6 linked regions of the Homo sapiens genome follow. The protein of the gene in region 4 purifies or fractionates together with the protein of the main gene of each other region. This does not show direct contact. Each region holds a gene or a part of one and is shown on either strand. Other genes may lie near its edges. The genes, in order: MMP3, HSPA12B, PDGFRA, CDH11, ZDHHC11 and FBXO36.

What was found.
Region 1: the proteins of CDH11 (region 4) and MMP3 purify together in Homo sapiens (co-immunoprecipitation; one large-scale study listed by IntAct). This does not show direct contact.
Region 2: the proteins of CDH11 (region 4) and HSPA12B purify together in Homo sapiens (co-immunoprecipitation; one large-scale study listed by IntAct). This does not show direct contact.
Region 3: the proteins of CDH11 (region 4) and PDGFRA purify together in Homo sapiens (affinity purification with western blotting, with the first as the bait; one study listed by BioGRID). This does not show direct contact.
Region 5: the proteins of CDH11 (region 4) and ZDHHC11 purify together in Homo sapiens (co-immunoprecipitation; one large-scale study listed by IntAct). This does not show direct contact.
Region 6: the proteins of CDH11 (region 4) and FBXO36 fractionate together in Homo sapiens (co-fractionation; one large-scale study listed by BioGRID). This does not show direct contact.

What each region holds. Positions count from the first base shown.
Region 1 is NC_000011.10:102,834,846-102,839,039, reverse strand, and holds the end of MMP3 (stromelysin-1 preproprotein), read left to right. Parts: intron 1-329; coding exon 330-489; intron 490-1,638; coding exon 1,639-1,742; intron 1,743-2,273; exon of another isoform or gene 2,274-2,602; intron 2,603-2,813; coding exon 2,814-2,914; 3' UTR 2,915-3,239; downstream 3,240-4,194. UniProt on the Homo sapiens protein: Metalloproteinase with a rather broad substrate specificity that can degrade fibronectin, laminin, gelatins of type I, III, IV, and V; collagens III, IV, X, and IX, and cartilage proteoglycans.
Region 2 is NC_000020.11:3,741,818-3,746,856, forward strand, and holds part of HSPA12B (heat shock 70 kDa protein 12B), read left to right. Parts: intron 1-466; coding exon 467-591; intron 592-3,084; coding exon 3,085-3,271; intron 3,272-3,653; exon of another isoform or gene 3,654-3,675; coding exon 3,676-3,780; intron 3,781-4,097; coding exon 4,098-4,214; intron 4,215-5,039.
Region 3 is NC_000004.12:54,235,737-54,240,775, forward strand, and holds part of PDGFRA (platelet-derived growth factor receptor alpha isoform 1 precursor), read left to right. Parts: intron 1-4,301; exon of another isoform or gene 4,302-4,316; coding exon of another isoform or gene 4,317-4,379; intron 4,380-5,039. UniProt on the Homo sapiens protein: Tyrosine-protein kinase that acts as a cell-surface receptor for PDGFA, PDGFB and PDGFC and plays an essential role in the regulation of embryonic development, cell proliferation, survival and chemotaxis.
Region 4 is NC_000016.10:64,988,804-64,993,842, reverse strand, and holds part of CDH11 (cadherin-11 isoform 1 preproprotein), read left to right. Parts: intron 1-808; coding exon 809-928; intron 929-1,907; coding exon 1,908-2,075; intron 2,076-5,039. UniProt on the Homo sapiens protein: Cadherins are calcium-dependent cell adhesion proteins. They preferentially interact with themselves in a homophilic manner in connecting cells; cadherins may thus contribute to the sorting of heterogeneous cell types.
Region 5 is NC_000005.10:840,512-845,550, forward strand, and holds part of ZDHHC11 (palmitoyltransferase ZDHHC11), read right to left. Parts: intron 3,214-5,039; coding exon 3,089-3,213; intron 2,164-3,088; coding exon of another isoform or gene 1,986-2,163; exon of another isoform or gene 1,182-1,985; coding exon of another isoform or gene 1,172-1,181; exon of another isoform or gene 334-1,171; coding exon of another isoform or gene 292-333; intron 140-291; coding exon 1-139. UniProt on the Homo sapiens protein: Endoplasmic reticulum-localized palmitoyltransferase that could catalyze the addition of palmitate onto various protein substrates and be involved in a variety of cellular processes.
Region 6 is NC_000002.12:229,924,676-229,929,714, forward strand, and holds part of FBXO36 (F-box only protein 36), read left to right. Parts: intron 1-5,039. UniProt on the Homo sapiens protein: Substrate-recognition component of the SCF (SKP1-CUL1-F-box protein)-type E3 ubiquitin ligase complex.

The sequences.
Region 1 (4,194 bases), on a different chromosome or scaffold from region 4:
AATTTTCCCTACTACAAGTTCTGGCTAATACAGTAGTCAACGGTAATGAAGAAATAACCAGGGCTGATATCATTGTATTTATATTTCATAGATGATAAAAATAAAGACAAGAAGATAAATTACCCAGAGTTGTAAATTCTCTCATTTGACCTTAGTTCATTCATTCAGTCTGCAAATTTTTGTGAAAAGCCCACTGTAAGCTGGTGACTAAATCTAAAATTTGGGCTACTACTTTACCATGAAAATCAAAGATGCTAAAGTGTATTTCTAAAGCGAAAGGGCTTAACTGTTATAATTCAATATGACTCTGAATTATTTATATTTAACAGGAAATCAATTCTGGGCTATCAGAGGAAATGAGGTACGAGCTGGATACCCAAGAGGCATCCACACCCTAGGTTTCCCTCCAACCGTGAGGAAAATCGATGCAGCCATTTCTGATAAGGAAAAGAACAAAACATATTTCTTTGTAGAGGACAAATACTGGAGGTGAGATGCAAGAGAAATGACTTTGTATGGAGCCTAATTAGGGAAATTAGTTTCTTTTACTAAGGAAATCCCCCACCCCAACCTTAGGCCTGCTTCTCTCTTAGTAGGAAGGATGGGACTTCAGACAACTGTGGGAAAGTTCTTACTTTAAAACAGCAGCACCTTAGGCTCTCCTGCTTTCAGTCCCAAGTGCAGTTGGCTGGTGCTTCCCTTGGTGCTGTCACCCCACCTGCCTGGAGCCCCCTCTTCTCTCCTCAACCTATTCAAATCTTGCCCATCCTTCAAGTCCTGGCTCAAGTCTCATCACCTCCATGCAGCTTTCCCTCGTGGACTTTAGACCCATTGGGAAAATGTTCTGAGAACCCAGACCGCAATTTAGCGTTCCCTTCCCATTGTCTTTTAGTTTGGCTCACTGTCTCACTGTGTGTTTGTCACTGTCTCATTGTGTGTTTGTTTTGTCTTCCTAACACTACTATATGATTTTCAAGGGCTACCTCTAACCTCACCCACTTGTCACCTCTACCTGATAATGATGGCTCATTTAAGAGATGATGATCAATAGCAGTCCAGTTTATGGATACAACCCAACACTCACAGACAGGTTGATTCCTGGGTCATTTGGCCAGACTTTGAGACATCGAGGCCGACCATCTGATATCCAGCCAATGGGCTAAAAACACACTTACTGTGCTTTGCTTCTTATCCTAATCCCTTTTCCCAGGAGGCCACCAGAGAAGATTTAGATGTGCAGGGGAGGGGACAGCAGGCATATATGGGCCAATTGTGGTAGGGAATTAAAATTGCATTTTAGATGTTGATTCAATTCACTTTATATATATGTTCACACTTTCATGTCTTTGTGACAGAAAGATGATTAAGGTTCTTTCTGTCCAGGCTTAAGAAATATGATGACAAACAGCATGTGCTACATACAGCAGGATGCGGCCCCTGTTCCGGATGGAGATATGGCTTTCAGAACTCTTTACAGTACCATTAAAGTCACATATTTCTATAGTCCCAAATATGCTTGGCATTTATTTGCAGTATTTATAAAGTTTAGTAAAATTCCACATTAAACCTAACATGATCTAAGATGTTCGGTAACATGGCCTCTATGCAATGCTGAGCTGTTTCTTTTACTTGGTACAGATTTGATGAGAAGAGAAATTCCATGGAGCCAGGCTTTCCCAAGCAAATAGCTGAAGACTTTCCAGGGATTGACTCAAAGATTGATGCTGTTTTTGAAGAATTTGGTAAGAGGATACTTACTGTGTTGGCCATAGAGCACTTGAAACATTTTATGATATCAGAGGGAAGAGGAGCATTGAAACTTTTTAATAACAAGTGTTTCTTAGGGCCAGTTCCCTTCTCAAAATTTTGATTCGCCTACATTTGTACTCATTATAGAACTACTTCACAAAATAACTTGTTTGGAACCATAAAGATAATTACACAAATCTCGCTACTTTATCTTATACATGCATATAAAATCAAAGTGCTCCAGTGTCACTTACATCTCGAGCTAACATGTGGAGTCAAGCTCGACTTTCAGATTACCATGTTAGCATAAAAATCCCATCAAGTGGTGTGGCCAGGTTTAATGTTGGTTAGCTGGCCTTCTCCTCCACCCTATCTTATTGCTGCTACTAATTCCCAGGGAGATTTTTTGTCTGTCTTTCCTGAGTTGTCAGTCATTGCCCATGCCAGTCATTTGCAAATACTTACCTTTCCATGTGCCCAAAGTTTAAAAAAAAAAAAAGATTTTGTTTTCTACTCAAGGTAAGGAAGTGGAGGCTGATGATCTTTATTGAAAGGTAACCTGATCACCATGTTTGCAGAGCACTAAAGGGTCCCCTGGTGTTTTGAAATAGTTGCTGTGCTTCCTAGGCTGCAATGCAGGGAAAAGGGAGGAGGATTTTTGGGGAAGAAAGAAATAGGTGATGAGAGTTTCCAAGCAAGTGGAGAATTTATCTGATCGGAAGCAGAATAACCCTGTAACCTGGAATCTGGCTGTGTTTTCAGACAGAGCTGGCACCGAGTGCTGTCTCCATTCTTCCTTGCTGAGTAACCTTGAGGAAGCATCGAAATCTGTCTCAACCTCAACTTGCTCAATCTGTAAATGGAGTTAGACATACAACCTCATAGGGTTGTTGCAGAAATAAATGAAAATAAATTCATGTAACAAGCTTGGCATAGTCCCTGACATAAAGTAAAGCTCTATAAACACTTTCTATTTTTAGTTCTCTATGATTCTGAGTTTTGTATATTGTCAAATGTCTTTATTTGGAAAAATATCTTACTATTTCCCTTGTCTGTATTTGCAGGGTTCTTTTATTTCTTTACTGGATCTTCACAGTTGGAGTTTGACCCAAATGCAAAGAAAGTGACACACACTTTGAAGAGTAACAGCTGGCTTAATTGTTGAAAGAGATATGTAGAAGGCACAATATGGGCACTTTAAATGAAGCTAATAATTCTTCACCTAAGTCTCTGTGAATTGAAATGTTCGTTTTCTCCTGCCTGTGCTGTGACTCGAGTCACACTCAAGGGAACTTGAGCGTGAATCTGTATCTTGCCGGTCATTTTTATGTTATTACAGGGCATTCAAATGGGCTGCTGCTTAGCTTGCACCTTGTCACATAGAGTGATCTTTCCCAAGAGAAGGGGAAGCACTCGTGTGCAACAGACAAGTGACTGTATCTGTGTAGACTATTTGCTTATTTAATAAAGACGATTTGTCAGTTATTTTATCTTATTGTTGTGTTTGTTTGTTTCAAGGGCAAGTTGTTCTCATAATTTGGGCACTTTATGGGCTGAGCATGCTCAGCCAGTAGACTAGAGTCTCCATGGCTTGGGGTTCACAATGGGTTCCAGAACTGCAGAGAATCTACCACTTGCCCTCCTCATGAGCCCTGCAAACAGGATGCTTATTTCTACCACCTAGACATTTTATGTGTCCTGACATACCTAAGGCAAAAAATCTAGAGGGGTTGTGACATTGTAGAGCAGGCTCTAGGAAAAACTGTGAAGGGAATCCTATAATCATAGCAAATTGCCTTGTTTGCACATCTCATTTTACAGGGTGAGGAAATCAGACTTGTTTTTCATCTTTTCCTTTTACTTATAAATTCCCTCAGTGCAGGTCCCTCCCCTGACCTAGCAAGCAAACTTCCTCATATCTACCCTATTCACATGGTAAAATATACTCTTGTACTCATTTTGTATCTGCCTGTGCCTGGATGTAAATGCCCATTGGCAAATGACGATTCTAACATTGGTTTATCATCCATAACTAATGTCTCTAGCACAATGCCTCGTACATGGTAAGAGCCGTTTTTAACTTATCCATTCATCTGAGAGTAATTTACAAATCATATTCCATATGCCAGGCATTATGCTAGGTTGCAGGCATAAGAATATGAAAATAATAGACACAGGCCCCTGCCCTCATCGAGATTATAATCCAGCGAAAAGAACACGTGTAGATAACCACAAATATAAATACGCAATTGTAAATTTCATAAGAGTTATAAAGGGAAAAAAATAATAGGAGGATCTATTTTGAACCAGATGGTTTTAGAAGAACTTTTGAGGGAATGGCATTGAAGGAGGTTTTGAAAGGAGGTGTGGAGACTAAGAGGGGAGATGATGGCTTGGACCACATGGGCACACGGGAGAGTTAGGAATGAGAGTAGACTCTATAGA
Region 2 (5,039 bases), on a different chromosome or scaffold from region 4:
TCTCCTCTCTGCCACAGAATCAGACAGTCTGGTTTGTGTCACTATGGCCACAAAGAGCAAGAGGATAAAATATATACACTGGTCCATGTGCTGTAAAACTGCCTGGAGGAGCAAAATTGCTCCCAGCTGGGCCCAGACTAATGGCTGCCTATGAAGATGGTGTGAGGTGGGGGTGGGGCTAAGGCAGTCCAGAGGGAGGGTGGGCAGAGGCTGGAAGCAGGAAAGCAGGAGCTTGAGCCAAACCCTGCCTGGGGCTACCTGAGAGACACGTCCAAGGCTCAGCCTGGAGCCTGGGAGGGCAAGGGAGCCCGAGCAGGTGGGCAGGTGGGGTGGGCCAGGTCCAGGGCTGGTCTGGACCACAGTCAGTGGAGGGGAGTGTCTTCCCCATGCAGAGGAAGCATTGGGGCTGTGGGGGATGGGGGTGTCCCTGCTGGCTGCTTGCTAATTCTAAGTCTTGCACTTGCAGAAACCCGAGGTCCGAGCCCCCCAGCAGGCCTCCTTCTCTGTGGTGGTGGCCATTGACTTCGGCACCACGTCTAGTGGCTATGCTTTCAGCTTTGCCAGTGACCCTGAGGCCATCCACATGATGAGGTGAGGTCGGCTGGGCTGAGAGAGTGAGGTGGGGAAGGTGGGGAGTTCCTCATACCTTGGTCCCAAAAGTACTGTCACCGAGACATGGGGTCTCCTTGGAGGCCCTGCCACCCCCAGTCTGGGGCTCCCCACTGGGGTAAAAGTTGGAGGATGGGCCCCAGGCCTGGGTCCTTGGCCTCAACTGGAGCAGCTCCCAACCCTCTGTAGGAAAAGTCAGACTTTGTTTTTAATTTTGAATTTTTTTGAGATATAACAAACATAACAATAAAATATGCAAATGTTTTTTATTTTCCTTTTTTTTTTTTTTGAGGCGGAGTCTCACTCTGTCGCCTAGGCTGGAGTGCAAAGGCACGATCTTAGCTCATTGCAACCTCCACCTCTCGGGTTCAAGCGATTCTCCTGCCTCAGCCTCCCAAGTAGCTGGGAATACAGGTGTGCGCCACTATGCCTGGCTAACTTTTGTGGGGTTTTTTGTTTTTTTTTGAGACGGAGTCTCACTCTGTTGTCCAGGCTGGAGTGCAGTGACGCAATCTCAGCTCACTGCAAGCTCTGCCTCCTGGGTTCATGCCATTCTCCTGCCTCAGCCTCTTGAGTAGCTGGGACTACAGGCGACCGCCACCACACCCAGCTAATTTTTTTTTTTTTTTTTGTATTTTTAGTAGAGACGGGGTTTCACCGTGTTAGCCAGGCTGGTCTCAAATTCCTGACTTCGGGTGATCCGCCAGCCTCGGCCTCCCAGAGTGCTAGGATTACAGATGTGAGCCACCAACCTGGCCTTTTTTTTTTTTTCTTTGAGACAGGGTCTCGCTCTGTCACACAAGCTGGAGTGCAGTGGTGTGATCATAGCTCACTGCAGCCTCAAACTCCTGGGCTCAAGCAATCCTCCCACTTCAGCCTCCTGAGTAGCTAGGACTACAGACAGCACCACCACACCTGGCTAATTTAAAAAAAAAAAAAAATTTTTTTTTGGAGAGACAGGGTCTCACTGTGTTGCCAGGGCTGGTCTTGAATTCCTGGCCTCAAGTGATTATCCCACTTTAGCATCCCAAAAATGCTGGAATTGCAGGCGTGAGCCACCATGCCCAGCCCACAAATATTTTTCTAAGCTTGTAGACAAACACACACATATACAAACATATATGTGTTTTTTTAAGTAAAAGTGAGATATACAACTTGCTTTGTTTTAAAGCTTCAACACTATTTTGTAGATATTTCATGTCAGCACATACGAAGCTACCACTTTCTTTGAACGGCCTAGTATTCCATAGTACAGATGTGTCATAATTTATCCATTCCCCTATTGACAGTTTTAGGGGGGTTTTTTCCTCCTCTCATTTTTCACTATTACAAAAAGTGCAGCAGTAATATCCTTCTTTGAAAACTTGTGCCGCAATCTCCATGGGGTAGATTCCTAGAGGTGATTCCTAGGTCCAACATCTCAAATCTTTTTTCTTTTCCTTTTTTAGTAAAAAGGAAAAGAAAAAATAATAAAACAAGAAATAAAAATAAAAACAAGAAAATGAAGGTTCTAAGGGCTGAGTTGACAAGTCACACAGTTGTTTTGAAAGACATGTTTCAAAAATCCATTCAAATGTTGGGTTTTATGTGGGACCTCAAGGACCTTGGGACCTCAAGACCCCAGTCCTCTGAATATGTCCTAGAGGGTCGGCAGGCAGTAGGTGAAGCTACAGGAGACCTCAAAGCTCTCAACCCAGACTGGGATGGGAGGTAAGAGGGGCTTCCCAAGGCCTGGAGACTGGATGGAAGGGTGAATGGAGACATAGACAGACAGGTAACTGCTCCCAAAATACATGGGACTTGAGCTTCATGAGACTGGACTGTCCTTCCTTCCACATCACAGGAAACCACAAAGGCTCTGAGCACTTACAGCCCTCTAGGAGCTGCAGGGCATCCCAGATGTCTTGCTGATCAACACACATGGCTGAGGCCATGCTGGGGCTAAGGACACATCCAGGAACACTGTCTCTGTCCTGTGGAGGTGACAGTCACAGGAAATAACTGGGGGACATTCCAGCCTCCTCCCAAGCTCTCTCTTCCCACCAGACACCAAGCCCCTAACATCTCTAGAATACCCATCTACTTCTCTCCATGGCCACTGATCGTGCCCAAGTTCAGCCCCGACCTTCTCTCACCTGGATGGCTGCAATATCCTCCTCCTTGGTTTCCTTTCTCCATGCTCCCTTCCCTGCATTCTGTTGCTCCATGGGAGCCAGTGACCTTTCTTTCTAAAGGCAAATGTGGTCATACCTCTTGGCTACTTTAAATCCACGAAGACAGAATTCTGAATGGCCTTCTGTGCTCTTCATGATCTCACCTTAGCATTCTTGTGTTTTCTCCTGCTGCCTATGGAGCCGACCCATAGCTAGTTCTCCCTGCTCTTTCACATCTGTAAGTTTTTGCACATGCTGTTCCCTCTGCCTGGATTCCCACCCAAGAAGGGAGGGTTGCACTGACTGCCCTGTGCCTCCGCAGGAAATGGGAGGGCGGAGACCCGGGCGTGGCCCACCAGAAGACCCCGACCTGCCTGCTGCTGACTCCGGAGGGCGCCTTCCACAGCTTTGGCTACACCGCCCGCGATTACTACCATGACCTGGACCCCGAAGAGGCGCGGGACTGGCTCTACTTCGAGAAGTTCAAGATGAAGATCCACAGCGCCACGGTGAGTCACAGGGCTCCAGACAGGGAGGCGGGGCCAGCATGGAAAAGGGCAGGGCTAATGGGGGTGGGTGGGACAAAACCAAAACGTGTGAGGACCGGCCCGATGGAGTCGTGGCTGAGAGGGGGCGGGGCTAAAGGGAGACGTCGGACTCCGGTGTGGGCGGAGCTCAGAAATGAGGTGGAGGCGGGGCTAATGTGGGTGGGGCTAATAGTGAAGCTGGGGTTGCAGGAGGGGTGGGGCTAAGGAGAGGGGTCGGGGCAGAGCTAATGTCACATGGGGCAAGAGTGGGACGGTGGTAAAGAGGAGGGGAAGCTCCAGGAAACGGGGTGATTTTAAGAGCGAGGTCGTCAGGAAATGAGTGCCAAGCTGAGGCCTCCTGCAGAGCCGCCCTGTGTCCCTGCCAGGATCTCACCTTGAAGACCCAGCTAGAGGCAGTAAATGGAAAGACGATGCCCGCCCTGGAGGTGTTCGCCCATGCCCTGCGCTTCTTCAGGGAGCACGCCCTTCAGGTGCGCTGCGGCCCCACCTCTGCCGACTGTGGCAGGGACCCCCTATTTTCCCCTCATCCGAAACCGCTCCCCCATCCCGTCCCCGACATTGGATGGGTAGCCACCGCCGGAGCTCAGAGGTCATCTTCTCCAGTACCCTCCTCCCTTTTTGTCTGGTAGAGCCTGCACCAAGCCATACTGATGGGAGGGGGGCCGATTCTTCCAGCTCTGCTGGGAAGTCCTTCCTGTGATTTGATTAGTACCTCCAGTTCCGCAGAGGGCTGAAGACCACCCTCCCTCCAAGCCAGCTTTCCTCTCACTGCCCCCTCCTGTACCAGGAGCTGAGGGAGCAGAGCCCATCGCTGCCAGAGAAGGACACTGTGCGCTGGGTGTTGACGGTGCCTGCCATCTGGAAACAGCCAGCCAAGCAGTTCATGCGGGAGGCTGCCTACCTGGTGAGGACGTGCAGGCGGGCCCGAGAACACTGCTCAGGAAGGGCCAGGCCTGTCCCCATGCTTGCATGCACCCCACCACCCTTGAGACCACAGAGTCATTGTGGAAAGAACTTCAGCCTGCTCCTGATGGGAGTTTGTAGAGTTGCTCCCACCAGAAGAGGGAGTGGGCCTGCAGGAACAGGGGACAGAGGGACAAAAGACACAGCCCAGGCCAGTGTAGACAGTGCCTTAAGTCAGGTGTCCTAAAAGCAGAGCCCAAGATGGAGAGTCTTTTTTTTTTTTTTTTTTTTTGAGACAGTCTCGCTCTGTCGCCCAGGCTGGAGCGCAGTGGCGTGATCTCGGCTCACTGCAAGCTCTGCCTCCCAGGTTCACGCCATTCTCCTGCCTCAGCCTCCCGAGTAGCTGGGACTACAGGTGCCCGCCACCACGCCCGGCTAATTTTTTGTATTTTTAGTAGAGACGGGGTTTCATCGTGTTAGCCAGGATGGTTTCAATCTCCTGACCTTGTGATCCGCCCGCCTCGGCCTCCCAAAGTGCTGGGATTACAGGCGTGAGCCACCGCGCCCGGCCAAGATGGAGAGTCTTATATGTGAGGTCTATTGAAGAAGGTTTCTCAGGAGAAAGGCGAGGGAGGGAGGCGGGACAGGAGAAGGAGCTATGAAGGATGTGGTCTTTGCTGGAGTCTAGCCTCAGGTTTAGCCTCAGCTAGATCCCATGGGGAGCTGCAGAGGGAGAACTGTAGCACAGAGTTGGGGCCGGCTTCTTGCACATCCGTATCGGTCTGTCACTGGTTCTGGGGAAATGGGAGGGAAACCTCTCCAAGTG
Region 3 (5,039 bases), on a different chromosome or scaffold from region 4:
GGAGAAGTTGAAGGAGCCGATCTAAAATATCTTGGGAGTCTGCAGAAAAAGTCGTGAAAATCAAAGCACTTTCAATTAAACTATATAATTTAGTCCTTACAAGAATGCCACAGGGCAAGCAACCAGTCAGGCCTTGGTAGTCGTGCTTCCTAGAAGAAAAGACTGAGGTTCAGAGAGTTGGATAGAGTATCAGATTTGGGATCAGTGGCTAGTCCAATGTGATTTCCATCCTTTCTTCTGAGAGAAAGCATAAGAAGGCCAAGAGGATGGTGGAAAAGCACAAGTCACCTGCCTGAGAGTCAACAGGGCGGGGGGTCTCTTTCTCAGTTTGTTCCTCTAAGTTATGGCAAATGTTTTTTGAGCTGTGATTATTGAGAATGGGGGCTGAAGTTCAACATGTAGTTGGCATGAGGGAAGTAATTATGATTGAAGAAAAGATTTGGGTGAAATCTAGTGTTCTTCCCTGCAAAGGGGGTTGTTCTCACGGATTCTTATGGTGCCATGTTTCTCAGAATTTGTAGTTTCAGTTACTTATATTTGCACACCTGACTTTAGATGAGCTCCAGAATAGCAGTTACTAATTAAGGATGAGCATTTAGAGTAGATAAAAGTGGCAGGAACAGCAAGACTCACTCCCAGAGAGCCTCACTACAGGTCTAATAGGTGAGGAAATTCCCCATGTTTCCCATTTTTCTTCATTACCTCCCTGTGGGGCAAGCACTGCCATTATTCATGAGTAAACTGTCTGAGTTATAGATAAGTAATGACATGAAACTTCACAAACACGCTGAGCACAGTGGCTCACGCCTGTAATCCCAGCACTTTGGGAAGCCGACGTGGGTGAATCACGAGGTCAGGAGTTCGAGATCAGCCTGACCAACATGGTGAAACCCTGTCTGTACTAAAAATACAAGAAATTAGCTGGCCATGATGGTGGGCACCTGTAATACCAGCTACTCGGGAGGCTGAGACAGGAGAATCGCTTGAACTTGGGAGGCAGAGGTTGCAATGAGCTGAGATCATGCCACTGCACTCCAGCCCAGGCGGCAGTGCAAGACTCCATCTAAAAAAAGAAAAAGAAAGAAAGAAAAAAGAAAAAAAGAAAGTTCACAAACAGGCCTGATTTCTACCCAGGGAACCACTGTTATCAGAGATTGGGGTTTGGAATCTTAAGCAACAAACACATGTTTATTCTCTTCCTTCCTGATGGCTTGCTCAGAGGACCTGTTTCCATTGCCCACTTTTTTTTTGAGACAGAATCTTGCTCTGTCACCCAGGCTGGAGTGCAGTGGCGAGATCCTGGCTCACTGCAACCTCTGCCTACTGGGTTGAAGCCATTCTCCTGCCTCAGCCTCCCGAGTAGCTGGGATTATAGGTACCTGCCGCCATGCCTGGCTAATTTTTTGTATTTTTAGTAGAGATGGGGTTTCATCATGTCGGCCAGGATGGTCTTGAACTCCTGACCTCAAGTGATCTGCCCACCTCAGCCTTCCAAAGTGTTGGGATTACAGATGTGAGCCACCACGCCCGGCCTCATTGGCCACTTTATATGTCAGTAAATAATCTTTCCTGGCAGAGGGTCCACTGTATCTGGAGGCACTGAAGGAAATCTGGGAGTGTCTGGCCAGGGCAAAGCACTGCTTAGAGCTTGCACAGGAAAAGCAGTGAGCCCTTCTTTTAAGCTGGAGAAAGCTTTAAAGATGCATCTTTGGCAAGTCTTGCCAAAGAAATATGGGTTCTAAATGTGATAAAACCAAAGACATCAAGCTGGCTCTGGAGGCCTTGTTTGAAGTTTGCTGAGTGGATTGTCAGTGGGAGGCTGATATTTATATGTACAAACACACAAGCATTACTGCTAATTGTGGTAAATCAGGCTGGCCAGCCTGGCTCTGGGGCCCACTGTGCCTGCCACCGCAGCAGTGTGGAAGCCTTGCATCCCAGGCACATGTCAGGATCCTCGGAGGCCATCAGCCAGCCAGCATTGTGTGAATTGCATTTGGGTTCACAGCACTGTAATTGTGTTTCTCCTGCTGTGGTGAGCAAAGGAGGAAAATGGAAGGAGGAGGTATAATTTGCCCTAGGAAATAGTCAGGCAAGTAGGTGGCACACAGGGGTGGGATATGGCTAAAACACTGACCTTCCCTTGAGAGAGACCATATGGTGAAGTGGAGAGGGCATGGCGTTTGTATCACACGACCTTGTGTTCAAATCCTGGCTCTGTCACTGGCTGTGTGACTTTGGGTCATTTGCAAAACCTCTCTGAGCCTCAACTGCCACTTCTTAAAATCAGCTCTAAGTAATCACAGGGTTATTCTTCACAAACACAGCATGCACATGCAAACTTTGGCTTAGTAAATAATGGTTTCTCCTTCTCTTACTTTGTTTTCTACATACCCCACTCCCCTTCCTGTGAGGAGCCTTCCACCTTTTTCTCTGTGTTCTCTTCCTCTCCCATTTTCCTGGTAGCATTCAATAAAACAGAAATCTGATTTCTGCAAAGTAGGCCACCTTACGGTAGAAATACATGATTAGGCCCCACCAAAAACTTTGATTAGGCTATTATCTTCTGGATCCTGGATCCCCTCCAACCAAACCAAACCCAACTAGGGCTAAACACAGCAATATATGAATACATTGAATTTCTCTCTCACTCTTTCTTTTTTTTAAACCAGTTTACTCAGGAATCACATGCACACATATTTTAGCTTCCAAAGCCAATGATGGAACAAATTGTGTCCCATTAGGCTCACTCCATTGTATGAGTTAGCATCAGAGGAGTTCATACCAGAGTGACTTCATCTTGAATAGGGCCTAGGTAAGAAGAGGATGAGACCTGCTGGGCTGCATTCCCAGGAGGTTACACATTTGTAGTCACAGGAGAGAAAGGAGTTGGTATAGGAGTTGATAGATACAGGTCATAAAGACCCCAGTGATAAAACAGGTTGCAGGCCAGGTTTGGTGGCTCATTCCTGTAATCATAGTACTTTGGGAGGCCAAGGCAGGAAGATTGCTTGAGCCCAGGATTTCAAGATGAGCCTGGACAACATAGTGAGACCTTGTCTCTACAAACAATAATTTTAAAAACATGAGCTGGGCATGATGGTGCAGGCCTATAGTCCCAGCTACTGGTCTGAGGGGCAGTTGGGTGGCAGGCTGAGATGGGAGGATGGAGGCTGCGGTGAGCTGAGATCAGGCCACTGCACTCCAGCCTGGGTGATGGAATAAGACCCTGTCTCAAAAATAGATAAATAAATAAATAAATAAGCCAGCAAAACCAGAATGCAGTGAAGAAGCTGGCCAAAACCCACCAAAACGAAGATGGTGATGAAAGTGACCTCTGGTCATCCCTACTGCTTATTACACACTAATTATAATGCATTAGCATGTTAAAAGACACTCCCACCAGTGCCATGGCAGTTTACAAATGCCATAGCAATGACCAGAGATACTCTATATGGTCTAAAAAGGGGAGGAACCCTCAGTCCTGGGAATTACCTGTCCCTTTCAGGGAAAACTCATGAATCTTCTACCGCTTGTTGAGCGTATAATCAAGAAATAACTATAGGTATACTCACTCAAGCAGCCATGCAGTTGCTGTGCCCATGGAGTAGCCACTCTTTTATTCTTTTACTTTCTTAATATATTTGCTGTCATTTTACTCTTTTGGCTTGCTCTTGAATTCCTTCCTGCATGAAGCCAAGAACCTTTGTGACCTCCCAGGCTGAACCCCAATTTTGAGTTCCACCCTATGACATCTTTTCTGGTGACCAATGAAGGGACAATGGTAACCTCCCGTTGACTTTAAATTAAAACTGATTGGCACTGTTTGGGCTTCACCGGTGGGTGAGTCTCTCCTTGCCCAGATTCAACTTGCTAACATTTTTTTCTCTTCAATTTTGGCTCCTTTGTCCTTCCTAATGTTCTTCATTTTGGACAGATGGGAAAGTGGCTGTGAGGCCTCTGGCTTAGCAGCCTGATAGCAGCCTCCTGTTGTCTGGGTGCCCCAGATGGGAGCACGCCTGGCTGGCCACATCTTTTGCAACCCACCTTGTCATCCCTTCTCTGGGACCTTTTCTCTTTAGTTTCTTTTTTAAAAAAAATTTTAAATTATTTATTTATTTATTTATTTTTAGAGATAGCATCTCGCTGTGTTGCCCAGGCTGGAGTGCAGTGGCATAATCATGGCTCACTGAAGCCTGGACCTCACTGGCTCAAGTGATCCTTCCACCTCAGCCTCCTGAGTAGCTGGGACTATAGGCATGCACCACCACGCCTGGCTAAATTTTGTATTTTTTTTGTAGAGACGGGGTTTTGCCATGCTGCCTAGACTGGTCTTGAACTCCTGGGCTCAAATGATCTGCCTGCCTCAGCTTCCCAAGGTACTGGGATTATAGGTGTGAGCCACTGCACCTGGCCTCTCTTTAGTTTTTAATGACTGGCTGTTTGACTTCTCTGCTCTTCAGGCTGAAATTCTTATTTCATGTTTGTAGTCTTTGCCTTGGCTATTTGGCAACTGTTTAAGGCAAGACACTTGGTTTTGAGAGTTCTCCCGTTGTGTTGACCCTGGGACACCAGGGTCATTGTTCTGTAGCTCCAATTATGTTAGGTCTCATGCTTTTGGGTTTCACTATTGGCCACCCCCCAGATGCTCTGGGGTTTTTGGCATTTGGTGTGGGGACCCTTGTTAGCTGATACTCTGGGCTTTTCGGCATTTGGATGCTCCAGGGTGTTTGGCACTGACATTCCCCTCTAGCATTGTGGGTTAGAGTCCCACCCAGGGGAAATCTTGGTTTTGCCTTTTCTTGTTTTCTACTCTAAAGTTATCATTTTCTATAAAAACATTTTCTTTTCTTATTGTCACTTTGTTTAATGCTTTGCTCCAGGAGGTGGGAATTTGCAGGGGAAAATAATTGGGCTCTCCCTATACTTAGAAAAACTTCTGTGTCTAGTAGAGATCCTTGTTAGACAAAGGGACAGTGGTGAGTCCCAGAGAACTCGTCACTAGGGTGCCTTTTAGGCAATTGGAGCAAATTCAAATT
Region 4 (5,039 bases):
TACTGGTTTTCTTCTTCCAGCTCCTCTCTCCCCACTCTGAAGCCCAACATGCCATGCCCCAGATACTTGCTATTTGTGACCAGCCAGGAACAAAGGTTGTTTTTAGGAAAAGCAGAACCCCATCTTTCTTCAATTTCCTGGTTTCCCTTCGTTCTGACCCATGAATGCTTCCCTTACCTCTCACCAGATGTTTACTGGTGATTTCTGTTATATGGCTACCAGACCAGCTACAGGTGGGAAGATGCAATTTTCATGCCAGTAGGGAACAGCATTCTGCTCAGTATTTATGGCCATAAATTAATTAAATTGTAGAATTAGCAGCAATTTTATTACATGCAAAGCAACAATAAAATGATGTATTTATTGTTCTGCTACAGATGGAAGATTGCACTCTGTCCTTTCCTGAAAGCAATTTATCGTTAATTATCATTTATTATACTCTGGGAAGATTTTAATGTAATTATTTGATATACTGAACATTTCAAGTGCATGAGTTGTAAGATATTTTTGCAATAATATTTATAATATTATTTTAATCACCAACCAATGTAGGATGTACTATAAATACAGAAAGTTCATTTTTAAACTGTGGCCATTTTTATAGAGCAGGAAGGAAGGAAGGAAGGAAGGAAGGAAGGAAGGAAGGTTGGTTGGCTGGTTATTTTGCATCTCAACTCCAGGAAAATGAGAGAATGTTGAATAATTGTGGTGCCTTCTTCAGGGTTAATTTTAGAATAAAACTTTGTAAACAAGAACATAATTTGAAAATCTGAGGAGATGTTGCTAATTAATTTATTTCACTTTTAAGGAACGTCAGTAATCCAGGTGACAGCTTCAGATGCAGATGACCCCACTTATGGAAATAGCGCCAAGTTAGTGTACAGTATCCTCGAAGGACAACCCTATTTTTCGGTGGAAGCACAGACAGGTACTGTGGAATGTCACTGTGATTTGTGACACATGGTGAATAAGAAGTCCCAGGCCTGACCAGAACTTATTTAATACTCTGTTTTCTCAAATATGAAAAAGGAATACAGAGGGCTACCCTATAGGGTTAGTGTGAGGATTAGATACTTGGCCTGTGCCTATCACACAGTTAGTACACCATGAAACATTTATTGTTGGTTTTCCCATATTTCACGATGACCCAATAACAACTATAATCTAAAAACTCAACTTTAATATCAGAAGTAAGAGAGCAATAAGGACTAAGTCTTCCACAGTGCTCTCTATATTCCTCACATAACTGTTGCCATATCTACAGAGAGAAAAAGCTTCCAAAGGTCTCCTAAAGATTTAAGTGAGCATGGCACTCATGTGCCAATATCCAGCAATCATGCAGAATTCAGTTATTAATTTATCATTGTTTTCCGTGACAGGTGATAATAGACAGTATGTGCTTATATGAGCATTGTATATATTTTAACCGATTTGGTTCACTCTTTTAAAAATTAATATTTACACTTTAATGTATTGCATGAAATATGCACCTCCTGCTTTAAACTTAATATGCACCATCAAAACATTTCCATGAATTGTATGTAGCAATAGACTTACAGAAGATTGTGCTGGAAGTCAAAAAGTATGAGTTTAGTCATGGATATTCATGCAATGACCACTCAAGTATTTCAGTCTTTAGGGTGTTTATATCTGAGAAGAATAGGGTTATTACTTGAATGTACAACAAAACATAAATACAAATGCTGTATAGTAATTTTTATGATTTGCTTGAAAAGACATAATGATGCTTCAGTATGGCTGCCTTTGGTTGTAATTACCATGTTGAAATGATTCTTGCTGAGGGCATGGGATATTTTATTCAGCATTGCTTCCTCAGTGCTCAGAACTTTCTTGTTGTCATAATGTTATAAACGAATATCTGTGATGTTGCCTGCTTACCTGTCCAGGTATCATCAGAACAGCCCTACCCAACATGGACAGGGAGGCCAAGGAGGAGTACCACGTGGTGATCCAGGCCAAGGACATGGGTGGACATATGGGCGGACTCTCAGGGACAACCAAAGTGACGATCACACTGACCGATGTCAATGACAACCCACCAAAGTTTCCGCAGAGTAAGTAGGTGGACTTGGCTTTCACTTTTCCATGGTGACACAGCCAGCTCTCTCCCTCCTCTAACCTATTCCTGCTTTACTGAGGTATCAAAAAGAAAATCTAGAAAACTAAGGGCAATTCATATCATTCTTACAAAAACAAAACACAAAAACAAGACAACAACAACAACAACAATGTCGGGGAGTAGAGGTAGTAGGAGAATGAAAAGATGTAAAAAGTTCTACAACCCTGGAAACAAAATATCGTTTTTGCTAAGTATTTTGCTTGGTAGTAGTGATGCAATCTAGTAATTAATTAACCCTTTTCTGCCTCAGTGTCCTCATTTCTAACCTGGATATAACAGTCCCTGAATCAGTTATCAATTACTGTGTAACAAATTGCTGGAAAACTTAGTGGTTTAAAACAATAAAAATAATAACAATAATTTGTTTTTATCATGTGTCTGGAATTTGGGCAAGGCTTGGAGGAGACAGCATGCCTCTGTTCTCCATAGCAACAACTGGGGATAGCTCCACTGGGGTTGGAGGATCCACTTCCAAACCAGCTTACTTGCATGGCTGGCAAGTTTGTGTTGATTGCTGCTTCCTTTCTGCGTGGGCTGGTTTTGGAAAGTGTGATCCCCAAGGGCACCAGGCAGAAATTGTCTTGCCTTTTGTTAACTAGCTTCAGAAGTTTCCACTGGAAACTGGAGTCATAAGCCACCAAATGTTTCCACTGGAGTCATAAGGCTCACAAATCTAAGGGGAGTTCATGTAGACCCCACCTTTCAATGGAAGACCTGTCAAAGTCATGTTGAAGGAAAAGCATGTGGGATGGGAGATATTGTTTTGGCCATGTTTTGGAAAATACAGTCTTCCACAGTACCTAATTAATAGGATTACTGTTTGAACTAAAGGAGCTAGTGTAAAATCTTATAATGACAACTGTCTATAAGTCGTCAACAAATTCTAGCCATTGTTATCTGGGGGATTATGGCTGTTCTACAAAATTTATAAAATTGCAGAGGGAATTAAATGAAAAACAATGATTTTGAAAGGTTATTATTAATAATTGTAATTATAGCAACTACCATCATTTAATGAATAGTCACTACTATTGTAAATCTCTGCAGGAGCCTACATTTTACAGATAAAACTGGTTTCCGTAAAAAGTGCATAAGTTGCCCTAGAAATGTGGCAAAGTCAGAGTTTGAACACAAGTCTGTCTATGTATGTACAGATGTGTATGAATGGACAGTATGACTGTGGTGCTGCTGGTGCTGCTAATGCATGGGGGGGTTCATCATGAAAGTGTCTTTTTCAGTTAGAGCCTGTGAGCTTACTATCAGAGAAATGGAACATTTTGCAAATGAGATAACAAGGAAGGCTACTAAATGTGGCCCCAGGAAGGCACTGTGGTTACTCAAAGGAATTCAAAAGCAAGAATCTACACAAGACTCTTTTGCCTGGCCGGGCACAAGTTCAGCATCCTCAATAAGCCTGAGGCTCATATAACATTCAAAGAGCTGCATGCTCCATTATCCACACTGTACGATTGTCTGGTGAGCTGGAAAAGAAAGGTCAAGCAGAATTATTAGCAGGCAGCCTTTACTGCCCTTGGTCATAGACAATCATATAGTAAAGTTACATTGCTACTGTACTGGTTTTACTGGTTTCACTGCCGTGAACTTGAATGAGATTTGGACAAAATCCACATAGGACATTTTTTTTTAAACCTTCACATTAATTGGTAATTATCTACAAGGGACTCCCACTTCCCACTCATCCTTTAATATAGAGGGCATGGTGAGATTAAATAGATTATGAATCCAAAAGAAAGTTGCAAAGCAAAATACTATTGATAAATATAGACAAAGTATTAGAACTGATGAAATCTCTGTAAGGGGAAATTAAAACATAATGAGCTGAAGTAACTTGCCCAAGACCACTTTGCTTGGAAATGATAGAGGAAAGATTTTCAACCCTGGCTTCCCTATATTGTGTGTTGCACAGAGTATTAAATGTGAAAAGCAAATAAGATAATGTTGAATCTTAGCTACTTAGTGCAAACCTTCCAGTGATTTCCCCAAGTTTAAACAAAACCTGAAGTCTTTTCCATTCCCCACAATGGTCTATTTTACGCAATTTGGCCTCCACTTCCTTACAGCCCTTCTCTCTCACCAGAAGGCTGTAGTCACTCTCCTCCTCTTGCTCCTCTGCAAGTATTCAGGATCTTCTCACCTTAGGGTTTTTGCCATTTGCTAATCACCTGGCTGGTAGTTTTTATCCTGCAGATATGCACGTCATTGTCTTCCTCAGTCATTTTAGATTCCTTTTTCTAAAGAATGTCTTCTCCTACCACACTACGCAAAACCAATCTCTCCCTCTTTCTGCTTATCACCCACACATTATTAACACAAGCATGCGTGTTCAATCACACTCATACACATACACAAACTCACTCACAAATAGCTCACATTCATACACACACTCACACTCTTACACAACAGATTCATGCCCACACAATCACTCATGGCCACTCACACATTTACCCCCTCACCCTCACACACAATCATGCACTTACACACCCACAACCACACACCCACTCTCAGAACCCTCACCCTTTTACCCTACTTTATTTTCCTTTTTCATTGCAGTGACATCAGAGTGTGTTTACATTTGTTTTTATTTTTTCTCTTTAGTCGGCCTCATTAAGAGAGGAATCTTGACTGTTTTGTTTAGTAGTAAACAAAACAAGCAAACAAAACAGTGTCCTGGCACTAGGACAGTACCTCCATGTACAGTATTAGGCTCCCAATAAACATTAAATAAATATATAGGAGGGTCACACTGCAGGAAAGCCTTCTGGAGAAGGTAACGCATGACCAACTTGTGAAGCAGGCAAGTTGCGAAGGAGGTGAAATAAGGGGAGTGTCGAATATAGAGTTAGACAGGGAGGGATGTTAAAGTTTGCATTTTTAAAGT
Region 5 (5,039 bases), on a different chromosome or scaffold from region 4:
ATGAGCAGCTGGCCCAGGTGCACCAAGCCAAGAAAGTCCAGCAGGAGCACGAGCATCCCGATGATCACGACTATCAGGGTCTGCACCTGCACCGGGAACAGGGGGAGGAACAGCAGCCACGTGTTCATATTCTTGACATCTGGGGAGACAAGGGAGAGCCACTGTGTCCAGCACCTGCTGACGGGTGCCACATCAGGTGGACGTCACAGACCAGAGCGTGCTGGGGATGGGGCGGTGTGGGGACAGCCAGTGCGAGGGATGTCTCCCTGCCCAGGTGGACGCCTCCCTTACCTGAGTGCCCCGTAGGCCCTGCTGCCTTCGGTTGGTTTTCATGATCCCTGCTTTATGGATCTGGGAGGTGAGGCTCCAACATTGTCACTAAGTGCCGGGGTCACAGTGCCCACCCCTTCCTAAGTGCTGGGGTCACAGCGCCCACCCCTTGCTCACTAAGAGCCAGGGTCACAGCGCCCACCCCTTCCTAAGTGCCGGGGTCACAGCGCCCACCCCCCTTCCTCACTAAGTGCCGGGGTCACAGTGCCCACCCCTTCCTCACTAAGTGCCGGGGTCACAGTGCCCACCCCTTCCTCACTAAGTGCCAGGGTCACAGCACCCATCCCTTCCTTATTTAGTGCCAGGGTCACAGTGCCCACCCCTTCCTAAGTGCCGGGGTCACAGCACCCACCCCTTCCTAAGTGCTGGGGTCACAGTGCCTGCCGGCTCTGCCGGGCCCCAGCACCCATCCTTTCCTAAGTGCCAGGGCCCCAGCACCCACCCCTTCCTTACTAAGTGCCAGGGTCACAGTGCCCACCCCTTCCTTACTAAGTGCCGGGGTCACAGTGCCCACCCCTTCCTCACTAAGTGCCAGGGTCACAGTGCCCACCCCTTCCTCACTAAGTGCCGGGGTCACAGTGCCCACCCCTTCCTCACTAAGTGCCGGGGTCACAGTGCCCACCCCTTCCTCACTAAGTGCCAGGGTCACAGCACCCATCCCTTCCTTATTTAGTGCCAGGGTCACGGTGCCCACCCCTTCCTAAGTGCCGGGGTCACAGAGCCTGCCAGCTCTGCCAGGCCCCAGCACCCATCCCTTGCTCATGGCCCACTCTGTGTCCCTGGACCCGCTGCACCCTAAAACAGCTGCCTTCAAATAGAACAGGAAAGCCACAGCTCTCGCCTGGGGTCATTTCTAAGATATGGTCCTCTGTGACACTGGGCTGCCAACACTCAAAACCACACTTCCAAAAATCAGGCGTAATGCAGAATGGCAGAGGGCCAGGCAAGGCAGAATGGCAGAGGGTGGGGCAAGGCAGAATGGCAGAGGGATGGATTCAGCATGGATGTCTTTGGGTGACTCAGCATGGATGTCTTTCGGTGACAGACCCTCTCTGGAACTGGTGGCCTCGGGGCCATCCTAGAAGGCAAACACCACACTCAGCCTGACAGGACCGCAGCTCCATGTGCCTGGGCCGGGCTGGACCCCATGCTGCCCCCCTTAGCCAGTGACATCACGATGAGTTCAGCCCATGAGAAGAAGGAGCAGCTTTGCTCAGGGCCTTGCTGGTTTTGAAGCCCTGCAGAATCATCTGGAACAGCAAACCCAGGAATTCACTCAGGCCACAATCAATGAATTCACACGGAGACACTGGCACTGCCCTGTGGAAGCAGCATGTTCCAGGAGAGAAGGCAGCACATGCCATCTTGGCCACCTCTGCTCTCTCACTCTCCCCTGGCATCCCCCACAGGGAGAGCCCAGACAACATGGAGGCTGCTGGGGAAGGTGACTTGCTACTGGGGGAGAAGAACGCAACAGGCATCGTCCTGGGCTTGGGTCCGCTGAGGTCAGGGCCTCGCCAGGGTGGAGCTGGCTTTCAGGAAGTGCTTCAGAAGCGGCTGTGAGGCCCTGGAGGCATCAGTCACGCTTCGAAGTGGAAGGAGGAGCTTTAGGGACTTCCACGTGGAGCTGGCAAAGCTCATCCTTGAAAAAAATGTCACACCGTGTTGGCTCCGGAATGTTCTGGAACAAGGGCAGGCAAGTCCTCCCTGTCTCGCCACCCGGGCTGTGTGCAGTGCGGGTGCAGCCATGCCTGGGGCTGAGACTGGCAGTCTTGTCCTGCACCCCGAGGGGCTTCTCTGGCCCAGGTCCTCCTGGTCAGGGTCCTGGCGCTGCTGCAATAAATACATCAAATGGTGGCGGGTGGGGGCAGCTTCTCCAGCAGACTCTTGCAGTCTGAGGCAGGCAGGGCTCTGACGTCCAGCTGCAGGACAGTTGGGCACGCTGCCTCCGCAGGGTCCAGGGAGGTCTTCCCAATTTTGCCAGCTCCTGTGGCTCCCGGCGACCCCGGGCTGTGGCTGTGTGACTCCACCCCTGCCTCCATCCTCACGAGGCCACCTCCCCTCTGTGTCTCTCCTTTCTCTTACAAGCACACTCGTGGCTGGATTTGGGCCCCCTGGGACATCCCAGCACGACCCTCCCACCTCAGATATTAAGTCACAGCCACAGGCCCATTTCCCGAGGATGCTGGCATCACGGGATCTGGGTTAGGCGTGGACTCGCCTCTGGAGCCCACAGTCCTCACCGCCACGTCTCTCCAGTGGCTCAGTGTGAGCATCGGTTCCCGAGGCCCAGGCTCCGGGCCCACTTGGCCAAGGGCCTCAGCGCACCGCAGCCTACAGCCCAGCACCCTCAGCGCTGCCTCCACTCTCCCTCCCCATGGGCTGCTCCTGCAGGATGGGCACCCCCACCCTCCCACAACTACATGGCCCCACAGGATGGTGTGACAGGTGCTACAGGGATGACTGCGGAGGGCAGGGGCAGAGGTGGACCCCACTGTCTCTCGCCTGACACGACCTGGCAGCATCTACAGAGCAGCGTGGCCAGCGCCCTCCCCGAGCCTGCCTCCCGCGCGCTGGGGGCTGCTGGGCTGTATGAACACTGGGCTGCTGCCGTCGGGCCAGGTCAGAGCCTGCATGGGGCTGCCTGCCCCGGCCTCTCCCTGGGACAAGAGGGGCCGACCACCCCAGACCCGATACTACCACCCGGAAAGACGGCTGGAGGCGAGGATGAGGCCCCTTGAGAGCGGCGGCCACGTACCTTCATACCTGGGGTCCGTGCGGAGCACCCCGGGGTTCACGAGGTACTGGACGAGGACATACAGCAGGATGGCGATCAGGCAGAGCATGCCAGCTGTGGCCGAGGCCACAGTGCTGAAGAAGAACCTGCCGGGAGACACACAGGCAGGCATGGGGGTGGGGACGTGGGAGCAGTGGGGGCGCAGGGGCAGGTGTGGGGGGCACGGGGGCAGGGGGTGTGCACGGGGTGGGCAGGGGCGGGCGTGGGGGGCACAGCGGCAGGGGCATGCGGGGCATGTGGGACAGGTGTGGGGGCGGGGAGGCAGGGGCAGGGACACGCAGGGCATCTGAGGCAGGGGCGGGGGCATGCAGGGCAGGTGGGGGGTGCAGAGGCAGGGGCAGGGACACGCAGGGCATCTGGGGCAGGGGCGGGGGCATGCAGGGCAGGTGTGGGGGGCGCAGGGGTGGGGACGCGCAGGGCATCTGGAGCCCGCAGGGTGGAGGTGACAGGTCAGTGTGGGCGTCCACTTGAGGGCGCCTGGCCACCGCCCAACGCTGGCCTCAAACCCTGCTCCCGACCGCGCCTGGAAGCTCAGGCTCCTGTCTCTGTGCCGTCCTGTGACGCCCCCCCAGGTCTCCAGGCCTCTCGCTGGAGAGGGGTGGCCGTGGGACATTCCCACCAGCACACCGCCCGACAATTCAGGCAGCGCTTCTTGCAAACGTGATTGCCTTTAATCCCCACAAGGAACAAGGAGGTTGTGAGGAGGGGGAACCAGCCCTTTTCACGAGTGGGGAAAGTGAGGTCAGAGATGCGGTGCGACTCGCCCAAGCCTACCAGCGGAGCATGAGGGTCACACGGCGTCTCCAGTGTCACAGCTCTGGGGCCTCTGCCCGCACCTCCCGACTCCACCTGATGCAGACAGGCCTCCCTACCAGCCAAGGAGCACGCGGGCTCGGTCCACTCGGGGGGCCCTGAGCATGGTCTGTGCTGGGGTCTCCATGGCACCATGCTGGGCAAAGGCACTGAAGCCAGGGAAGGGGAGAGCCACGAGAGTGCCGTGGCACCCAGGAGGGCCTGCAGGCTCAGGGACCTGGATCTCTGCACCCAAAGGGAACTCGGGCTGAGGAGGCCCTGGAGGAGCCCGGCCACACCTCGGCTGCAGTCCCCCCTTCTCCAAGGGTCTCGTGCAAATCTGAGCCAAAAGCGATGTCCATGCTGTAGACGTGAGACCAAATCCACTCCCAGTCTCTCGTCTTTGCTCAAAAGATGCAGAGAATAATCCATCCACAAAAACCAATTCTGGGCAGCAGTTCCTGGAACATACTTTGACTAAACCATCTTCCCTTGGTCTTTCTGCCATGATGATATTTTTTTAAAAGTATCCTTTAACCTCCTTTAATCCTTTCCATTGTATTATGTTCACCTAAGCTTGTTTAAATCCCTTTTTCTATTTTCAACTGGAGGCCAGAGCATGAATGCCGCAGTCCTCCGAAGAGGCAGTTAGGGCACAGCTGCCTTCCCCGCGCTCCTCCTCCCTCCAAGAGTCTTCTGGATAATCCAGGGGTGACGGGTGGCTCCAGGCATGAGCGGCTCCCTGACTGCTGCTCCCTCATACTGCCTTCCCTCTCACAGCTTAGGTTTCCCAAGCAGCAGCCCCTCCAGGCAGCGGACACGCCCTACCCTGCCCCCAGTCCTCCTGGGCTTGAGCCCACTTGTGGGGAGTAAAGACCCCTCATCTTCATCCTACTGTCTGGACAGGACTCCCCTCTTCATCCAGGAAAGAAGGCGGGTCTCTAAGACCACAGAGACAAAAGCCCACAGGATGGGGCAGAGCCATTCACGCGGGGCCTCCTCTCCCCGCAGCCACCCAGGGACATTCTCCTCTTGGTTAGCACAGCCTCCTGCCCCTGCTGCCTGTGTTTAACCTGCAGAGTCCGAGGCCAGCGCTCACAGTCTTCCCAGGACACCAGCG
Region 6 (5,039 bases), on a different chromosome or scaffold from region 4:
GGCATTCGGCTTCCTAAAGAATAATTCTGTTGTTGGTGTTCTTCAGACTTTGCTCTCAAGTCTAACTTAGGCGCATGCCTTCCTCTAACTACTCTTTTTTTTTTTTTCTTTGAGGCAGCGTCTCGCACTGTCGCCCAGGCTGGAGTGCAGTGGCTCAATCTCAGCTCACTGCAAGCTCCGCCTCCTGGGTTCACACCATTCTCCTACCTCAGCCTCCCCAGTAGCTGGGATTACAGGCGCCCGCCACCACGCCCGGCTAATTTTTTGTATTTTTAGTTGAGATGGGGTTTCACCGTGTTAGCCAGGATGGTCTCTATCTCCTGGCATTACAGGCGTGAGCCACCGCGCCCGGCCCTAACTACTCTTTTTTAAGAAATCTTTCCCACCATCCCTTCAGTGTTCTTAATTTTTCTTTTTCTTTCTTTATTTTTATTATTTATTTATTTATTTTTTATTTTTTGCAAGTGAAAAACTCTCCTTTATCTCAGGTTCTGTCAGTTACATATATATAAAATCCTAAATTCTGATCCATTTTCTTTTTTAAGCATGCTGAATAAATCCACTACACTTCTACCAGTGAGAGTTAATCTCCAAGCTAATTAATTCACCCTCTTTTTAAAGTAAAATTTGTTGTAAAAAATGGCATGCCAAAAAAATATACTTTTCAGTCAACTGCCTTGAGAATATGCTATTTTCTAACCACAAGACAATTTTTCTGAGTCTCAGCACAGGAAACCAAACATCCAGTAAGAGGTGGCCTGACATAAATAAGTACTAAAAGACTAGCATTAAAATATGTTTTATAAGATAGATTTTTTTTCTGGAATGACTTTCTAAAATTATTTCTTGTACATTTCCTCCCCTTTCTCCTGTCTTTATTTTTTTAATGTTGTATATTATCCAAATTATGCCCCAGATTTAGATGAATCCTTCTTTCATGCTGATTCTGTTTTTTAGTCTCTTTTTCACTGCATCTTTTTCGTTGGCCTTAAATCCAAATAACTGCACATTTGACATGGATTTGAGGGCAGATATTTCTCTCATTAGTGTCATACCACCACTGACATAGTCCAGAATATAAATGTTATACATAAACATTTTCTTTGTTTATATAGTAACATTTGAAATATACTGTATGCTTATACAGGCACTTCTCTTTTACTGCTTGATACCATGTTGTTTTGGGTCTTGGGAGAGGGGTTTTATTCAAATAAATAACTTTTGGATTACAGCTTGGGGTCAGTTTAGTTTCTCGAAGCTGATCTTTATAATGATGATCTCCAGCTTTAGAAAAAATAGTGCGCTGCTTTCTAAATCAAAGATTCACTCAAGGGTTGGGCACAGTGGCTCAAACCTGTAATCCCAGAATTTTGGGAGGCTCAGGTGGGAGGATTGCTTGAACTAAGGAGTTTCAGACCAGCCTGGGCAACATAGCAAGACCCCTTCTCTTAAAAAAAAAAAAAAAAAAAAGGGGGGGCTGAGCACAGCTCATGCCTGTAATCTCAGCACTTTGGGAGGCCGACACAGGCAGATCACTTGAGGCCATGAGCTCGAGACCAGCCTGGCCAACATGGCAAAACCCCATCTCTACTAAAAATACAAAAAATTAGCTGGGCATGGTGATGCACGCCTGTAGTCCTAGCTACTCGGGAGGCTGAGGCAGGAGAATCGCTTGAACCCTGGAAGCAAAGGTTGCAGTGAGCTGAGATCACACCACTGCTCTCCAGCCTGGGCAACAAAGCAAGACTCAGTCTTTAAAATAAATAAATAAATAAATAAGATTTACTTGGCCAGGTGTGGTGGCTCACACCTGTAATTCCAGCATTTTGGGAGCCTGACGGGTGGATCACTTGAGGTCAGGAATTCAACACCAGCCTGGCCAACATGGTAAAACCCTGTCTCTACTAAAAATAAAAAAATTAGCTGGGCATGGTAGCATGAGCCTGTAATCCCAGCCACTGGGTAGGCTGAGGCAGGAGAATCACTTGAACCCAGGAGACAAAGGTTGCAGTGAGCCGAGATCTCACCACTGGGCAACAGAGTGAGACCCCATCTCAAAAACAAAAAAAAAAATACTGTTATTCTTACTCTAGCTCTAGTAGTTTACATATATTTTCTTATATTGGATTCTAATTCTTTGAAAACCAGTAGATTAATAAAGTGTTAGGGGTGGAAAGGATCTTTGTTTTTTTTTTGTTTTTGCAACAAGAGCCTCACTCTGTCATCCAGGCTGGAGTGCAGTGGGGTGATCTCGGCTCACTGCAACCTCCACCTTCTGGGTTGAAGTGATTCTCCTGCCTCAGCCTCCTGAGTACCTGGGATTACAGGCACCCGCCACCATGCCCAGCTAATTTTTGTATTTTTAGTAGGGATGGGGTTTCACCATGTTGGCCAGGCTGATCTTGAACTCCTGGCCTCAAGTGATCTGCCCGCCTTGGCCTCCCAAAGTTCTGGGATTACAGGGGTGAGACACCAAACCTGGCCAGGGCTAGAAAGAATCTTGAATATTATTTAGTTTGTACTTTCATGACACATATATATTCCTATTTATAGTGGGGAGAATGTAGCTAGTATTTGATTTGTAAAAACACTTTAATGACTAATCTTTTATATGTTGTATTTTTTTTTAACTCCAAAGGAAGTTCATGACCAATTGGCAAGTTAATGAGTGCAGGTGTTTTAAAATCTATGAGTTTAGAAGAAGCAAAAAATCACTTTATTCTAAGTGGTCCAGGAGGGTACTGTTACCAGTATTGTACTCTTGAAATGTTGTCTTCTTTGTCCTCTCAAAATGGAAGTGTTGCTTAGGTGGCCAGAACAGTTAACTTAGGTTTAATGTGACAAATACTGGAAAAGTGTTAGAAAGAGAATAATGGTATGCTAAGTAGATGGGAACTGGCAGATACGGCCTCTTGCAGCCAATAACCCAGGTGGTTGTCCGAAGAGCACCAATATGTTATAGTTAACTCCAGCAGATGAAAGAAGGAAGAATTGGGCAATAGATTCGTCTTGTTTTATCTCTTTTTCTAAATCCTATCCAAAGCTCCAAAAAGATATATGAAGCTAGTGTCATTTGAAAAAAAAAAAAAAATGAAAAAGCTCACCCCTCTAAAAAAAATGGCAATTATTTTTGAAGTGCATTAGAGTTGTGGCACTAAAGACTGAAAACACCTGAGGTTGCATGCCAGCCTGTGACAGGAAGCTGTCATCTCAATGACTTCTGACAAAAGAATTAAACTAGACTTGGTGATGGCTGGGCGAGAGACAACAAAAAATTGAGCTAGTGCCATTTCATACTGCAGACCAATTTTGAAGATTTAAAATGTAAATGCAGTCTAATAAAAATGTTAATGCACACACCCTTTGACCCAGCAAATCCATTTCTAGGATTTGGATATCCAAAAATGCTATCACATGTGCACAAGGATATGTGAGCAAGATTATTGACCAAAGTCAATAATTGTAAAAACATTTTTCCATGAGAGGAAATGTGGTTAAACTGTGATTCATTCATGCCATAGAATACTATCCAACTTTTCAAAAACAATGCGGTGGATCTCTGTTTACTCAGTAGACCAAATAAAATCTTTAGCAAGAAAAGCAAGTTGCTGGATTAAACATAGCATATCCTACTTTTTTAAAAAAGTGTTTTAAATAAATGTTAGTGAGGTTTTAAATAATTCTTAAAAGAAAAAGCTGGAATGATGCACTCTTAAGAGTTACAGATTTTTACTCTCCGCATTCATATTTCTGGAAGATCTGAATTTTCTACCATGAGCATTTATTTTTATAATCAGAGAAAAGCAATAAAGATTTAAAATGAAAGTGTAAATGGATAACTGTTACTTTGAGGTGGTGTCCTGCCTGTATTCCCCCTATTGGGCCAGCACCACCTTTCACCCACCTCCCTCATTGAATATTGAGGCTGAATATTGAATATTGAATATTGAATAGCTTTGATAGCTGTGTCCCAAACTCCTGCTGTTTTTGTGGAAGGAAAATAATTCTAATTCTACAGTTTTAGAGTGCAAATTGATTAATGATTAATTTTGCAATTTTCCTTGCAAAATTTTAAGGAGGATTTTTGGTGTTTTTGTTTGTTTTAGAGGCAGAATCTCATTCTGTCCCCCAGGCTGGTGTGTAGTGGTGCAGTCAGCTCACTGCAGCCTCAAACTCCTGGGCTCAAGCAATCCTTGCGCCTCTGTGTCCCAAAGTGCTGGGATTACAAGCATGAATTTCTGTACCCATCCTTAAGGAGGATTTAGTGTCTAGAAACTTCTGACCTTTTTTTCTTTTCATTTTTTTTTTTTCTTTTCTGAGACAGAGTCTTGCTCTGTCACCCAGGCTGGAGTGCAGTGGCATGATCTTGGCTCACTGCCTCCCAAGTAGCTGGGACTAAAGGCATGTACCACCCCGCCCGGCTAATTTTTGTATTTTTATTAGAGATGGGGTTTCACCATGTTTGCCAGACTGGTCTCAAACTCCTGACCTCAAGTAATCCGCCCGCCTCAACCTCCCAAAGTGCTGGGATTACAGGCGTGAGCCACTGCACCCGGCCTCTTTTTCTTTTTAATATAAGTAATAATTACCTTTGAGAAACTAAAGGAGCTGGGTATGGTAGCTCACACCTGTAATCCCAGAACTTTGGGAGCCTGAGGCAGGCAGATCACAAGGTCAGGAGATCAAGACCATCCCGGCCAACATGGTGAAACCCCGTCTCTACTAAAAAAAAATAGAAAAATTAGCCAGGCGTGGGAGCGGGCGCCTATAGTCCCAGCTACTGGGGAGGCTGAGGCAGGAGAATGGCTTGAACCTGGGAGGCGAAGCTTGCAGTGAGCTGAGATCAGGACACTGCACTCCAGCCTGGGCAACAGAGCAAGACTCTGTTTCAAAAAAAAAAGAAAAAGAAAGACACAGCCAGGCGCGGTGGCTCATGCCTGTAATCCCAGCACTTTGAGAGGATGAAGCAGATGGATCACGAGGTCAGGAGTTCAAGACCAGCCTGGCCAACATTCTACTAAAAATACAAAAAAATTAGC